Linked DNA regions of Homo sapiens: region 1 is linked to region 2. A link means that fine-mapping ties the variant in region 2 to the expression of a gene that starts in the linked region. Tissue or cell type: monocytes after R848. Region 2 holds a variant in brackets; the other region holds the start of a gene. All regions are shown on one strand. Distances are from middle to middle.

Region 1 (8,094 bases), 160 kb after region 2:
TTTTAATTTCTTTTTTTTTGTTTGTTTTTTGAGATGGAGTCTCACTCTGTCGCCCAGACTGGAGTGCAGTGGCGCAGTCTTGGCTCACTGCAACCTCTGCCTCCCGGGTTCAAGAGATTTTTCTCCCTCAGCCTCCCAAGTAGCTGGGACTACAGGCGCACACCACCACGCCCGGCTAATTTTTGTTTTTTTAGTAGAGACAGGGTTTCACCATGTTGCTCAGGCTGGTTGGTCTTGAACTCCTGACCTCGTGATCCACCTGCCTCGTCCTCCCAAAGTGCTGGGATTACAGGTGTGAGCCACCATGCCCAGCTTTTTATTTCTATTTTTTTGAGACAGGGTCTTGCTCTGTCGTCCAGGCTGGAGTGCCATGGCACGATCAAAGCTCACTGCAGCCTTGACCTCCTGGGCTCAAGCCATCCTCCCACCTCAGCTTCCCAAGTCACTGGAACTACAGGTGTGAACCACTATGCCTGACTAATTTTTTGGTTTTTTGTTTTTTTTTTTTTACAGAAACAGGGTCTCACCATGTTCCCTAGGCTGGTCTTGATCTCAAGCAATCCTCCTGCTTCGGCCTCCCAAAGTGCTGGGATTACAGGCGTGAGCCACCATGCCTGGCCTGGAAATCTGTTTTTTGTTGTTGTTGTTTTGTTTTGTTTTTTTAGCTCTCCAAGTTTGGGAACCAGTGGTTTAAAGGGAAGTGAAAATAAGATTTTCTCCCACCTCCCCATAGTCAGATCCTGCTGTACTTCTTTGTTGAATCTGATGTATATATGTTTCTTACACTGGTGGAAAAGAGGCCTTATCTTTACACTAAGACCATGACCTTTGCTTTATTCAGTGGATGTTATTTAATGTGACTTGCAGAAAGGTCATTTACTGCCCATTTGCAGGTCTTTTATATGGTCAGGTCCACTTCAAAGGCACCCTACAAAATATTCCATTTCTGTTTGTGTTTATCAGTGCTATCAGCTTTTACTTTATCATAAGCAAAAAGCTGCCTAAAGAAGTACTTGACTGTAGAGCAAGATTATGGGCAATGCCACCATAAATAAAACCAGTGCTTATCTGTCTGGATTGCCAATCAAGTGAAGAAGTGCATGAAGCATGTGGACGATGCATAAGAAATTCAGAGAATGGGGCCGGGCACAGTGGCTCACGCCTGTAATCCCAGCACTTTAGGAGGCGGAGGTGGGCAGATCACGAGGTCAGGAGTTCGAGACCAGCCTGGCCAACATGGTGAAACCCCGTCTCTATAAAAATACAAAAATTAGCCAGGCGTGGTGGCAGGCACCTGTAATCCCAGCTACTCGGGAGTCTCAGGCAGGAGAATCGCTTGAAACCGAAAAGGCAGAGGTTGCAGTGAGCCACGATCGTGCCACTGCACTCTAGCCTGGGCAAAAGAGTGAAACTCTGTCTCAAAAAAAAAAAAAAAAGAAAGAAATTCAGAGAACATGTAACAGTGCAATTAAGCCCTGGGGATTTGGTCCAACTGAGTGTAAGATAAATAATACCTAACTGTCCAGGCTTCTTGGAACAGATTTTTTTTCTTTCTACGATCTTTAAAACTGATTTATGAGTGAAATTGAGGTCAGCATTCCCCTTTGTGTTTCATCTGCTGATGTTACAGGGTCACAGTGACATTTTGAATTGTAAAAGGGCTGCCAGAGTTCCAGTACAGCAAATTTTCCCCTCCTAGACTTACTCTGTTTGAGAAAAAGCACCAGAGGGGGGGATGTGAAAGTGACATTTTTCAGTCAAGCTTCTCTTTTAAGTCAAGTATACAGGGTCTAACAGATGCTGTTGTCAGCTGGCAAACTGGACAGGTAATCACTAAAGAGGTCCTCCCAAGCCAGGTGTCGTGGGGCACACCTGAAGTCCCAGCTACTGGGGAGGATCTCTTGAGCCCAGGAGTTTGAGAGCAGCCTGGGCAACACCGTGAGACCTCATCTCTAAAAAGAAAAGATAAAAGGTCAAGAAATAAAGAGCTCCTCCCAGTTTCAGGGCTGTAGGCCTCCCTGGAAGCCCGGCTATACTGCTCAGGAGTGCTGGGCCTCTCAGTACATCTCTCTGCCAATCCCAAACCTCTGTTTGCATTTAGACATTCAGGTAACACTTTTCAAAATGTCTCTACTGTTTTCACAGTTGCCAAGATTCTTCCCACTCTTACAGAGATGTGTTGGAGTCTCCAGCATGCGGTAGGACTTAGTCCCTTCACTGTAATCCAGGCCTAGGGGGTTAGGAATGGGGAGCTCTATTTGCAGGATTTGGGCTTACTGTCATTTTGGTCTGTTTTAGTTGGATAAGATTGACCACAATGCACACAGACTGGACATTTGGCCAGTCCCCCACTACTACTTTGTTGTTTTGTCTAGGAGTGCTTATTCTTTTCCTTCAAACCTGAAAAATCTTAGGCTCTCATATAAGCAAGTCAGGAAAAATTAGAGAATTTCATAGCCGTTTTCTTTTTCTCCTAGGATAAGTTAGATACCTTTCCCTGGGCTCCAAATCTCAGTTTACTGTCTTTCCTTGCAAAAGACGTGTCCTCCCTACCCATGTCCCTCTCAGTGGAGGCCAGTGCCAGTGACCAAACAGCTGCCGAGCTCTTTAACTCTAATTAGTACTCCACACCCTCACATAGACCTTGCAGGAGGCCTCAACCCACCCACTCCCTCCAACGAGTTGTGACGCAGACCATCTCAAACTTCACATCCACACGTGTCACATCAACGCACGTGACACAAGTGGCCGAAATGGTTTCCTCCTTATAATTTTTGGTGAGTGACTTGGCCGTGGTTCATTCCAAGCGGAAGTGATGGCTGGTGGATATGACTTGAGGGGAATTCCTGAGGGCAAGGAAAAGGAAGAAAGGGGCCCCAGAGAAGACGAGGCACAGCTGGAGAACCCTAGGGCTGTGAACACTGCGACTGCCGCGCGGGGCAGCTGCGCCGTGTTTGCTGGAAGCCTCCGGTAGCTGCTGAAACCTTCGCTCCGGAGGTCGCCTCGGTAAACCTTGCGGATGATTCCACCACGGCGGAAAGACGAAAAGGAGGCTTCTAGGCACCCGGGACCGCCCGTGTCCCGCCCTTTTCCCCGATGAAGTCTGACGCGGCAGGTCCCTCGGCAGGGTTAATGGGACGGCCTGGTGGGGCATTGCCGGTCTTTCCCAGCCACAGACAAGCTTCGCGCCTCGATCCCCCAGCGCCCCCAGACGCTGGATGCCGAGGCCTGGTCCTTTACAGCCGCCGACGCCTCATGAGCGAAGCCAGCCAGATGCCAGCACCGCCTTCGGCCCCGCCCCGAGCCAGCCCCTCCCACATCCCCGCCCGGGGCACGCCCTCGGCCCGCCCCCATCTCCGCCCCGAACACGCCCCTAGATTGGCCCCGCCCCGTCCCCGCCCGCAACTCCGCCCCGACCGGAAGAAGCCGCGGCACCCAGCGCTTATAGGGCCGGGAATGGGGGTGCCGCCGCTGCCTAGTCAGTTCTGCGTCCGCTGAGGCTCGGTCACCGCCTCGCTGTCGTCGCGGCGCCCCCGCCCCGTCCTCTGTCCGTACCGCCCCCGGAGCCAGGGCCGAGTCCTCGCCATGCCGGCCCGGCGGCTGCTGCTGCTGCTGACGCTGCTGCTGCCCGGCCTCGGGGTGAGTGACCGGGGAGCGTGGGGTGGAGGACAGCTCGCGACGGCCGGGTCGGGGCCGGGGCAGCGTCGCGGCGCCGGGGCTGGAGTCCGAGCTGGGAGCGCGACGGCGGCGGCCAGATGCCCCGTGAGCCCAGCCGTGGGAGGCTCGGGCCGGGCGTAGGAGGCGGCACCGGGCCGGGAGAGCTTCCCTGACGGGAGTCGCGGCCCCACCGAGGCGTCGGCCGCCCGAAGAGCCTCCCAAGCCAGCGCGGCTGTCACGGGCAGCGGCTCCCCGGACCCCGCGGGCTCGGGCGCAACTTCGTGGCGTCCTGCACGGCACTTGGGGGTCCCAGAAGGCCCCGGCCTGAGGAGGCCGCCCACCTGCGGGACCCTCCTCCTCGCGGGCGGGCGCCGGCGCTGCCTGGCGGGGGCCGCGGAGGAGCCGAAAGGGCGTTGGGATCCAGGGGAAGGGTCTGTCCTGCGCTTCGAATCCTTGTTTGAACTTTTTAAAAATTCGAAAACTTTGGGGAACGAATGCAACAGGGAGTAAGGACTCTCACCCGAGAGCTGGCTTCTGCCACTTGCCCTGCCGGTTTCTTGGTACTGGGAGGCTGCAGGCTTCCTTCTGTGCACCGAGACTTCCTTGAGCAAGTGGAGCTGTGGGAATTGCACTCTTGGAAGATCCCGCATGGGTTCGAGGTGAGGCCGCTTCAGAACCTCAAATGAAAGACTGTCTCCTCGTGGGAGAGCACCTGGGGCCATCAGAAATGTCTTTTCATCTTTTTCTGGAGGAGACGAATGATAGGGCCTGGTTTACATTCATTTAACTCTTTATGACCTTCACTCAGCTGTGGATTTGGGGGCACTTTGTGGGAGACTTGGCTTTTTTTTTTCTTCTGGTTGGAAGAACCTAAATTAGCGAATGTTTTTCACAAAATGTATTGTTCAGGATGTGAGCGTGGCAAATTTGTCCGTGTTCTGTTTAATGACCTCTTTAAAGGTACTGTGTACTCTTTAATAGGGATATCATGTACCAGGTGTCCCAGTAGAGCACTGACATGTGTGTGCCTGAGTGCCAGCCACCGTGTGAACTCTTTGGAGGTTTTGCATTTTAGGTAAATAACTGTCTGTACTCTTGGAGTAACAAGAATTTGGAAACAGGAGAAGTAAATAAATAAGGTTGCCTTTTTCAAATTCAGGGTTTTTTTTTTTAAATAAAGGAAAATTTGTAGACTCTTTATAATAGAACTTGTGGAAGTTAAGTTTTTCTTTCAAATAAAAACCCCACTTTTACAACTAAGGTCAGGTTTTGAACTTGAGCACCTCACCTTGGATTGGTAACTACTGCCTGGCATCTGTTCACAAACGAAGGTATAAGCAGAATGACCAAATGTTTGACATGAATTCGATCATTTCATAACGTCAAGGGATAGGTGTATAATGGTTTCCTTTGCCACATCTTTCCTTTTGCTACTTTGTCACTGGATTCTAGTGTTTGGTTATTGAATAACTTAGGCTAAAGAGCCAAAAATAACGATTTAGCTGTAGTTGGAACTATAGTTTCAGTTCGTGTAAATATTTCCAATTTGTATTTAGAAATCCAAACTTCTCAGAGTTCATGATAAAATATTCCAGACCCTTATCAAAAGGTTATAGTTTAGCGTAACTATATTTAGGTGAAAGGTCAGGCCGGGCCCGGTGGCTCATGCCTGTAATCCCAGCACTTTGGGAGGCTGAGGTGGGTGGATCACTTGAGGTCAGGAGTTTGAGACCAGCCTGGCCAACATGGTGAAACCTTGTCTCTACTAAACATACAAAAAAAAAAAAAAAAAAAAATTAGCCGGGCGTGGTAGCGCAGGCCTGTAATCCCAGCTACTGGGGAGGCTGAGGCAGGAGAATCACCCGAACCTGGGAGGCAGAGGTTGCAGAGATGGAGTCACTGTGCTCCAGCCTGGGTGACAGAGCAAGACTCTGTCTCAAAAAAAAAAAAGAAAGGTCAGAATTTCACTCCTAGAATTTTCTCCCAAGGGTTTTTACCCCCAAACATAGTAAGAATTATTATTTTAAAATTGTAAATGAAACTCATAGCAAAGTTTGCAGTTAAACCAGGCAACAGTGATGTGCAGAACGCAGTGGGTATAAAATCAGACAAACCTGAGTTCTAACTGGTCACTTGCTAGCTGTGCCCTAGGCATATTCTTTTACTACTACTACTACTACTTCTTTTTTTTTTTTTTTTTGATATGGAGTTTCTTCGCTCTTGTTGCCCAGGCTGGAGTGCAATGGTGTGGTCTCAGCTCACTGCAACCTCCGCCTCCCGGGTTCAAGCGATTCTCCTGCCTCAGCCTCCCGAGTAGCTGGGATTACAGGAGCCCACCACTACACCCGGCTAATTTTTGTATTTTTAGTAGAGACGTGGTTTCACCATGTTGGCCAGGTTGGTCTCGAACTCCTGACCTCAAGTGATCCACCCACCTTGGCCTTCCAAAATGCTGGGATTACAGGCATGAGCCACCGCACCCGGCCATGATTTTACTTCTTAGAGACTCCTTCCTGATAGGTGAAATGGGGACAGCTAACATGTGAAAGAAGGCACCACCTTCACACGTGCTTAATAGATAATAAATGTAAATTCTCTTTATGCTCCAAAGATGCTTTTTACTCTAAGCCATCATTTTTTGAATGTTATACTATGCCTCTGCAAGAAATAGTTTTTGATATTTCTTTTTGATTGATGTAGTAACTATTGCATTGGAGGCAATACTGTGATTTTCTTTCAGTGTGTGTCTTATTGAGCCAGACATTGACTCATTATGAGTTGAGACTTTAGGCTACCAGATCCAAAACGCAATAACATTGGTATTATTAAGCACTTGAGGCTGTCTTTTGTTAATCCAGAATGTGCTTATTTAGTCAGTGAGTTTTTCCTTTCTTCCTAGACCTATATCTTGCTCCTAGAGTTGGTTAGGGTTACATCATCACTGTCAGCAGTCCTCATTTTATGGTTATTTAGGTGCCACATCTCTCAATTACCAAAGAGATCAGTACAATGTGAGGCAAAGTACCTTTTTTTTTAAAAGCTATAAGATATCAGATTTCTTTCATTTAGCCAATATTTTGGTTTTAGAGGGAGGTTTTTAAAAAGTCACCGAGAACTGAGGATCATGTGTGTATAGAAACACTGTAATCTGATAGATGAGTCTTAACTAGCAATGTCTTTGCTTATCATTTATTCTGACAGTGATCACCTGCATTAATTATCCTAATAGGCGATATCAAGTGTTTATACTGAGGCCATAAGTAGAATGTTCATTGAGTTTGTTATCAGGGCTGCTGATCATGAAATTAAACTGTAGTTGTGCACATGTGTATTGTTTCATTAACTTGCCTGCCTATTCAGCCTTCTGCAGTAATGTAGCTTCTCAGAGCACAGGAGAAAAATGTATCTGAGAGTTATTCGAGAGAGAGTTCAACAATAGCCCATATTTCCGAACATAAATCTAGTGAGCCGCATTAAAGTTTCTTCATGTCTGGATGGAATAGTGTCACTTGCATAGGTCTGAGGGTTTCATTATTTGCCTGCCCCAGATTTGGACTCCGTTTTTCAGGTGAAAGAATCCTTGGATAACTGTTTCATTTTCATAGGAAACCTCTTTGGTTTCGGGATCCAAAGTAATATGTAGGTTCAATATTTTGTAGGTTTTATAATCAAATGTCTCCCTAAAGAGATGACATAGGGAAGAAAAGCCTAATGTATCATCTTAATGGATTCAGTTTTTATTATGCACAAATAACTGGGCTTGTAACCTAGGAATATGATTAGAGCGTGATGCTGGCTTAAAAAATAGGACTGGTGAATCACAGTTTGTGAATAATAAACTACTGGTTGGAAATATTTCCCAGAAGCAGTTTTTTTTTTCCTTTCTATCTTTACCTATATCCCATGTTTGGTTTCAAACTTCCCTGCCTTAGAGCAACACAGCTGGTTTTAGACAGTCTTTCTATCAATATCTTATAATCTTTGCTCATGTACAAACATACAGCAAATACAACGGTATAAAAATACGATGTTATCTATTTTTGTTCACTTTTTCCCCACAGAACATCTTCTGTAACCCGGTAGAAAATGTTCTGAGTACACCATCACATTTGTCACTTTAGTAGCACCTTAGTAAACCATCATCCATGTAAAAAAACATTGAGCTTCTCAGCCGGGCTTGGTGGTTTGCGCCTGTAATCCCAGCACTTTAGGAGGCCAAGGCGGGTGAATCACTTGAGGTCAGGCGTTCGAGAGCAGCCTGGCCAACATGGCAAAACTCCGTCTGTACTAAAAATACAAAAATTAGCTGGGCAAGGTGGCATGCACCTGTAATCCCAGCTACTCGGGAGGCCGAGGCAGGAGAATCGCTTGAACCTGGGAGGTAGAGGTTGCAGTGAGCTGAGATCACACCACTGCACTGCAGCCTTGGCAACAGAG
Region 2 (8,102 bases):
TTTCAGCAGTCCCCGTGGGCAGATTCTCAGTGAGTCCCACAGGCCCCATGGTGGTTCACTTTCCAGCTTTAGTCCATCTGTACCCTGATGGGGAGATTTCTTGCTTGCCAATCTTAGCCATAGTTCTGTGCCCACCAACCTCTACCTGCTTGCACCCCAGACGGGAGTTTCTGTTTGTCCAGCAACTGTGGACCAGCTGTGGCCTGGGACAACCCAGTGAACTTCATTATCCAGTGGGCCGTAATTTCACTTTGCCCCACAAAGTCTGAATTCCAGCTGTGGGTCTTCTCCCTTAGCCATAGGATATTCTTTGTTTGTTTGTTTGTTTGTTTGTTTGTTTTTGAGATGGAGTCTTGCTCTGTTGCCCAGCTTGGAGTGCAGTGGCGCAGTCTTGGCTCACTGCAACCTCCGCCTCCCGAGTTCAAGTGATTCTCCTGCCTCAGCCTCCCAAGTAGCTAGGATTATAGGCATGCACCACCACGCTTGGCTAATTTTTGTATTTTTAGTAGAGACGGGGTTTCCCCATGTTGGCCAAGCTGATATTGAACACTTGGCCTCAAGTGATCCTCCCACCTAGACCTCCCAAAGTGCTGGGATTATAGGCGTGAGCCACCACACCCAGTCTATTTCTCTTCTCTCAAGGATTGTTGTCCTTGAGATCCATTGCGTGACATCCAATGTCTTGAAAACCATTGTTTTATATTTTGTCCAGCTTTTTTTTTTGTTTTTCCTTTTTTGGTTCACTGAAATCTTTTGTCCAGTTTTTTACTTGTTTCAGACTGGTCCCTGTTATTCCATCTTCACCAGAGGTGGAAGTCAACTCTAATTTTAAAATATTCATTTACTCAACATGTACACACAAAAAATTGTGGCACACCAGCCATGGGGATGCAGCAATGAACAAAACAAACAAAAATCTCTGCCCTCCTGGAGCTCGTATTCTTATGACAACTGATTAAGAAAATGTCTAATGCTGTGTGTGCTCACCACACATGTCCTGGCCTGGACCACCAGGCTGGGAATCCACAACAATACCCACTTCCCCCTCGTTGCTACTGATCTGTCCTCTTTCCTTCCTTCCTTCCCCCTCTCCACCATGCCCACCACTCTGGAGGTGCCCCCTCCTTCTCTTTTCCAAGGTAATTCATGGAATTATTCAAACTGCCTTGTCTGTGCAATGCCTCTGGAAAGCTACATGATAAATGTCTTCCAAGCCTGGAAAGTGTGATTTATATTTTTAATTATATCTTTCTGGCACCACAGGAGGAGTTTTCGTCTTCCCCATCTCCACAGCATCACACTTGGCTGTTTAGTGAATAGATTGAGATCAAACTTTGCTCCTTGCAAGGTCACAGATAAGCAGCCCTCATCAGCACCTTGCATCTGACAGCTACAAGCCAAGGTCTTATTTATAGGCCCTGTTACATACTCGCCCCACATCCCCAGCTCATCTTTTATTGTTCTATTTTAAATTGGGAAGACAGCCAACCCCACGTCCATCTCGTTCTGCCTTATCACCCTGCAGCACAGGCTGGATAATGGCCATATATATATATATATTTTAATAACAGCTTGATTGAGATATAATTCACATACCATAAAATTCATGCTTTTAAAGTGACGATTCAGAGGTTTTTGGTATATTCAGAGTCCTGCAACCAACACTACAATCAATTTTAGAACATTTTTGTCATCCCCCCCAAAAAACTCCTACTGGCTGGGTGCAGTAGCTCACACCTATAATCCTAGCACTTTGGGGGCAGAGGTGGGAGGATCACTTGAGCCCAGGAGTTCAAGACCAGCCGGGGCAACATGGCAAGAACCCATCTCTACTAAAATAAAAAATACAAAAATTAGCCAGGCGTAGCAGCTTGCACCTGCAGTCCCAGCTATTCGAGAGGCTAATGTGTGAGGATTGCTTGAGCCCAGGAGGTCAAGGCTACAGCGAGCCATGATCACGCCACTGCACTCCAGCCTGGGTGACAGAGCGAGACTCTGTCTTCCTCTAACTCTCATAGTCCTAGGAAACTACATATCAGTCTTCTGCCTCTGTGGATTTGCCTACACTGGACCTTCCATATAAATGTGATCATAATATGTGACCCTTCGTGACTGGCTTCTTCCACTTAGCGTAATGTTTTTGAGGTTCATCCCTGTTGTGGCATCCATCAGAACTTTGTTCCCTTTTATTGCCAGATAATATTTCGTTGTATGGATACACCACATTTTATCCATTCATCAGTTGGTGGACATTTGGGTTGTTTGACCTTTTTTGCTATCATGAATACTGCTGCTAAAAACATTCATGAATTAGCCAGTCGTGGTGGCGCACGCCTGTAGTCCCAGCTATTCGGGAGGCTGAGGCAGAAGAATCACTTGAACCCGGGAGGCAGAGGTTGCAGCGAGCCAAGATCGCGCCACTGCACTCCAGCCTGGGCAATAGAGCAAGACTCCATCTCAAAACAAACAAACAAACAAACAAAAAAATTCATGTACACATTTCTGTGTGGTGGGCATAAATATTCAGCCTCAATTTCCAACAGCACTTTGGCTGAGGGTGGGCTTGGGACACAGAAAAGGAAGGCGGCCACAAAACCCAGCCTGTCTTCTGACTATGACACTGATAGAACCCTCAAGGAAAAGGAAGACAGGAGAGCCGGCTTCCTCCTAGAAAATTCAGCCTAGACCAGGCACGCTGGCTCATGCCTGTAATCCCAACACTTTGGGAGGCTGAGGCGGGCAGATCACTTGAGGTCAGGAGTTCAAGACCAGCCTGGCCAACATGGCAAAACCTTGTCTCTACTAAAAAAAGAACATATAAAAATTAGCCAGGCGTGGTGGTGGATGCCTGTATTCCCAGCTACACAGGAGGCTGAGGCACAAGAATTACTTGAACCCTGGAGGTGGAAGTTGCAGGGAGCCAAGATTGCACCACTGCACTCCAGCCTGGGTGACAGAGCAAGACTCCGTTTCAAAAAAAATAGAAAAGAAAATTCAGCCTAATAAACAAGAGTTGAGGACTTGCTGTGTGCCTGGTTCTGAGACGGGAGCTGGGGGCTGCAGCCTCCCTCCCTCCTCCCTCTTCCTCCTTCCTTCTTTCCAGCATTCCTGTATTAGCATCTACTCTCTGTCAGACTCTCTGGGGGTACCCCCAAGGGTCTTAACCTAATTTTAAAAGGCAGGCAGTTGAATTCAGAATTCTAAGTGTCCCGGTGACTGATGTCGGGCCAGGACAGGAACTACGGTCACCCATGAGAGGGACACCCAACCCAGTTCTAGGGAATCAGGGAAGGCCTCTCGGAGGTTCTTCCTACATTATATTATATAAATTTCCAAACATACAGAAAGCCTTACATGCTCACCACCCAGGCTTAACAGTTATTAGCATCTTGCTAGATTTATTTCTAACTTCCTTCTGAAGGATTTTAAGGTAAACTTCAGACATTGCAGAGGTTCACCCCCAAATACCTCAGTGTTCCTTTTTTTTTTTTTTTTTTTGAGACAGAGTCTCACTCTGTCACCAGGCTGGAGTGCAGTGGCGCAATCTTGGCTCGCTGGAATGCAGTGGCGCAATCTTGGCTCACTGCAACCTCCGCCTCCCGAGTTCAAGGGATTCTCTGGCCTCAGCCTCCCAAGAAGCTAGGATTACAGGAGTGCACCACCACGCCCGATTAATTTTTACATTTTTAGTAGAGACAGGGTTTCACCATGTTGGCCAGGATGGTCTCAATCCCCTGATTTTTTGATCCGCCCGCCTTGGCCTCCCAAAGTGCTGGGATTATAGGCATGAGCCACCACGCCCGGCCTCCTTTTAAAAACAAAGATAGCTGGGCACGGTGGCTCACGCCTGTAATCCCAGCGCTTTGGGAGGCCGAGGCGGGTGGATCGCCTGAGGTCAGGAGTTTGAGGCAAGCCTGGCCAACATGGTGAAACCC[C/T]GTCTCCACTAAAAATACAAAAATTAGCCAGACGTGGTGGCACATGCCTATAATCCCAGCTACTTGGGAGGCTGAGGCAGGAGAATCGCTTGAACCCAGGAGGCGGAGGTTGCAGTGAGCCAAGATCATGCCATTGCACTCCAGCCTGGGGGATAAGAGCGAGACTTCGTCTCAAAAAAAAAGAACACACAAAGATAATTTCCTACATAGGGATACCTTTATCACACCAAACGTAGGTCATCATATTTCTTTGATAATCCAATGCCCAGTTCATATTCAAATTTCCCCAGTTATTTCAAGGACATTACGTATAGTTCTTTTGTTTGAAAAAGGATCTAATTACAGTGGAGGTGCCCTTTAATCTGCAACAAGAAGGCAGGGTGAGAAGGCTTTGTGGGCAAAGCAGCTCCTGGGCAAAGGCTCAGGGGGACAGTCTGGGCCTGGGGAAATTGACGAACTCAGCTTGAGGAAGATGGGCCCAGTTCGGAGGCCCTACTGGCCCTGCTGTGTTCCCACTGGAGGAGAGAGAGCGAGCCCTCCTAGGCACAGCTGTGACATGCCCAGAGAGTGGGGCTCTGATGAAAGGGCCTGCTGGTTCTTGCTATGATCCCCAGGGCCTGATTCAGGACACACCTCGGGCTGGAGGGCCTTCTTCGAACCTTCCTTCAGTCAAGGGAGCGGTCAGTCCAACAATCCACGGCTCTGGAAAGTTCCCCCTGAAGATTGGTTCTGTCCTGCTCACCCTGTGCTCCCTATGGGGACAGGCCCTGCCTTGGACTCCCAGGACAGTGTCTTTCTACTGTCTCTCAAGACAGGCAGGGCACTTGTATTAATCCACTTTCACACTGCTGAGAAACACATACCCCAGGCCGGTCACAGTGGCTCACGCCTGTTATGCCAGCATCTTGGGAGGTTGAGGCAGGCAGATCACCTGAGGTCAGGAGTTTGAGACCAGCCTGGCCAACATGGCGAAACCCTGTCTCTACTAAAAATGCAAAAATTAGCCAGGCGTGGTGGCAAGCGCCTGTAATCCCAGCTACTTGGGACGCCAAGGCAGGAGAATCGCTTGAACCAGGGAGGCAGGGGCGGCAGTGAGGCAAAATAGCACCACTGCACTCCAGCCCGGGCAACAGAGTGAGACTCTGTCTCAAAATAAATAAATAAAAATAAAAGACATACCTGACACACCCAAGACTAGGCGATTTACAAAAGAAAGAGATTTAATGGACTCACAGTTCCACGTGGCTGGGGAGGCCTCACAATCATGGCAGAAAGTGAAAGGCACGTCTCACGTGGCAGCAGACAAGGGAAGAGAGTTTGTGCAGGGAGACTGCCCTTTATAAAACCATCAGATCTCATGAGACTTATTCACTATCACATGAATAGCATGGGAAAGACCTGCCCCCATGATTCAATTACCTCCCACTGGGTCACTCCCAACACATGGGAATTGTGGGAGCTACAATTCAAGATGAGATTTGAGTGGGGACACAGCCAAACCATATCAGGACCCTTCCTCCAGCCCTGTTAGGACATGTGGCAGATCCTGACTATAACAGCCCAAGACAGTGCTGTCTCTCCCTCAGGGCCCCATCATCCAGCCCTCTCAACTCCAGGATGGGCTGCCATGGTCCTCTGGGTGCCTTTGCCTGGTTCTAGTCACTGTGTTGAATGTCAGAGAAGGAAATAGCTGCAGTCTCTGTTTAGAGCCCTGTCCTTTGAGAACAGCAGGTACTCTTGATGTGGGCTGTAGATGACCTTTTGAAAATCAGACCCTGCTTCCCAGGAGCCTTTCATCATGTTTCTGAGATGTTGCTCTTCTCTCTTTGATGGAACTTCAGACAGAAGCCAATCTGCAGCCTAAGCCTGCCCGGGCCTTGAGTCCACTTAACAACCTAGGAGCCCTGTTGGATGTGCCAGAGGAGTATTGATAATCAGGGAGCAGAGATAGAGGAGTTAGGCAGGGGCAGCTTGGCCCTCTACGACCTCCTGGCACAGCACCATGAAGCCTAGGTGTCTGGCCCCTGACAATTTGCTCCATGCAGCAAGGGGCAGGGTTGGGAGGGGTCTTTCTTATTCATCAGCCAGTCAATAAAGCATCTTTCCAGGTGGGGCTTTAGTTCAGGCCTTACCTTTCCAGGAACTTCTGTTTGTTTGTTTTGAGATGGAGTTTCGCTCTTGTTGCCCAGGCTTGAGTGCAATGGCACAATCTCGGCTCACTGCAACCTCCGCCTCACGAGTCCAAGCGATTCTCCTGCTTCAGCCTCCCAAGTAGCTGGAACTATAAACACGCACCACCACGCCTGGCTAACTTTTTGTATTTTTAGTAGAGACGGGGTTTCACGATGTTGGCCAGGGTGGTTGAACTCCTGATCGCAGGTGATTCTCCCGCCTCGGCCTCCCAAAGTGCTGGGATTACTGGCATGAGCCACTGCCCTCAGCCTCTGGAAACTTCTTTATCAGCTTACTTCATTAATCAAGCTGTCGGGAGTTGGGTGAATAATTCAGGAGGCCAATTTCATTCAGTCATTCATTTATTCACTCATTCAACATACATTTTTGAGCACACGCTGTTTTCCAGGCACAATTCTAGGGGCTGGGCATATAGTGGTGAAAAAGACAAAGTTCCCACCCTCACAGGGCTGTAGTCTGGCAAATTCGCCTGCATTTAATTGGTTTCAGCAAGAAACAGAATGGCCAGACCACTGAAGGCTCAAGTCAGCTGACCCACCACAGACAGGATCAGCAGGAATGGTGTGGCCAGTAGACCTAATGACCAACGGATATAATTTTAATATATATCCTGGCCAAATCTCATGTTGAACTGTAAACCCTGGTGTTGGAGGCGAGGCCTGGTGGGAGATGTCTGGGTCATGGGAGCGGATCCCTCATGGCTTGGTGCTGTCCTCGTGATAGTAAATGAGTTCTCAGGAGATCTGGTTGTTTAAGTATGTGGCACCCCTCACAACCACCACTCTCTCTCTTGCTCCTGCTCTGGCCACGTGACATGTCTGCTCCCGCTTCATCTTCAGCCAGGAATAAAAGCACCCTGAGGCCTCCCCAGAAGCCAAGCAGGTGCTGGCACCATGGTTGCACAGCCTGCAAAACCATGACCCAATTAAACCTCTTTTGTAAATTACTCAGTCTCAGGTATTTCTTTATAGCAATGCAAGAATGGCCTAATACACCAGCTTTGGTCTCTGGACTACTAGAAGCATCTGAGTACCACAGCGGTGCCCACTTTGGAAAACCCTATTCTATGTCATCACGTACTGGTCATACAAATTGAGACACTGCCCTAGTCATTACAACCAGCCTTGGCTGTCCCTAAATCCCCCTCAGGCACCCACTACTCATCCTTCCCTAGAGAGATCACTTCTATAAATGACACACATCATCCATGACATGGGGATTCCACCTGAATTTACTTAGGGGAATGGTTCAAACCGTATATTTTAACTACACCCGGAGATTCTTCTTCAAGATTCCTTTAAGCGTTTGTCTTAGTCTGTTCCTGCTGCTATAACAAAATACCTTAGTCTGGGTGATTTATAAATAGTAGAAATTTATTTCTCACAGTTCTGGAGGCTGGAAAGTCCAAGATCAAGGGATTGGCAGATCCAGTATCTGGTGAGGGCTCCATCTCTGCTTTCAAGATGGTGCCTTGTTGCTGCGTCCTCCAGAAGAGACAAATGCTGTCTCCTCACATGGTGGAAAGGGAGAAAGGGATGAAAAGGACAAATAGGCTCCCTTCAGCCCTTTTATAAGAACCCTAATCCCATTCATGAGGGCAAGGCCCTCTGACCTAGTCATCTCCTAAAAGCCCCACCTCATGCATTGGGAACGAAATTTCAACACACATTTCGAAGAGACACACACATTCAAACCACAGTAGGGTTGTTCCTTTTAAACATTATTTAAAGGCACCCATATGTATGTAATAATAATAAGGGGGGCTGGGCACGGTGGCTCACGCCTGTAATCCCGGCACTTTGGGATGCCGAGGCGAACAGATCACTTGAGGTCAGGAGTTCGAGACCAGCCTGGCTAACATGGTGAAACCCCATCTCTACTAAAAATACAAAAACCAGCTGGGTGTGGTGGCACGTGTGCCTGTAGTCCCAGCTACCTGGGAGGCTGAGGCAGGAGAATCGCTTGAAACCAGGA

Direction of the effects. Positions count from the first base shown, and alleles are read on the strand shown. Sizes are in standard deviations (SD) of each study's normalised expression.
With allele C in place of T in region 2, the expression in monocytes after R848 of the gene that starts at base 3,471 in region 1 is higher (large effect, 1.0 SD a copy in Quach 2016).

The links. PIP is the estimated chance that this variant, and not a neighbour inherited with it, causes the effect.
Region 1: ERN1 starts here. The variant in region 2 is fine-mapped to the expression of ERN1 in monocytes after R848 (Quach 2016, PIP 0.95).

Annotation. Positions count from the first base shown.
Region 1 is chr17:64,125,521-64,133,614 of GRCh38, reverse strand. ERN1 (endoplasmic reticulum to nucleus signaling 1) reads left to right here and starts at 3,471. Exons shown (of 22, transcript NM_001433.5): 1 at 3,471-3,639. The coding sequence starts at 3,586. RefSeq lists enhancers at 1-11, 1,607-1,666, 2,571-2,620, 2,671-2,870 and silencers at 3,291-3,420, 3,511-3,960.
Region 2 is chr17:64,283,175-64,291,276 of GRCh38, reverse strand. No RefSeq gene overlaps it. Among named protein-coding and RNA genes, the nearest start is that of TEX2, 24 kb to the right of the region's middle. RefSeq lists a silencer at 1,294-1,588. The variant C/T (reference allele first, on the strand shown) is at 3,936.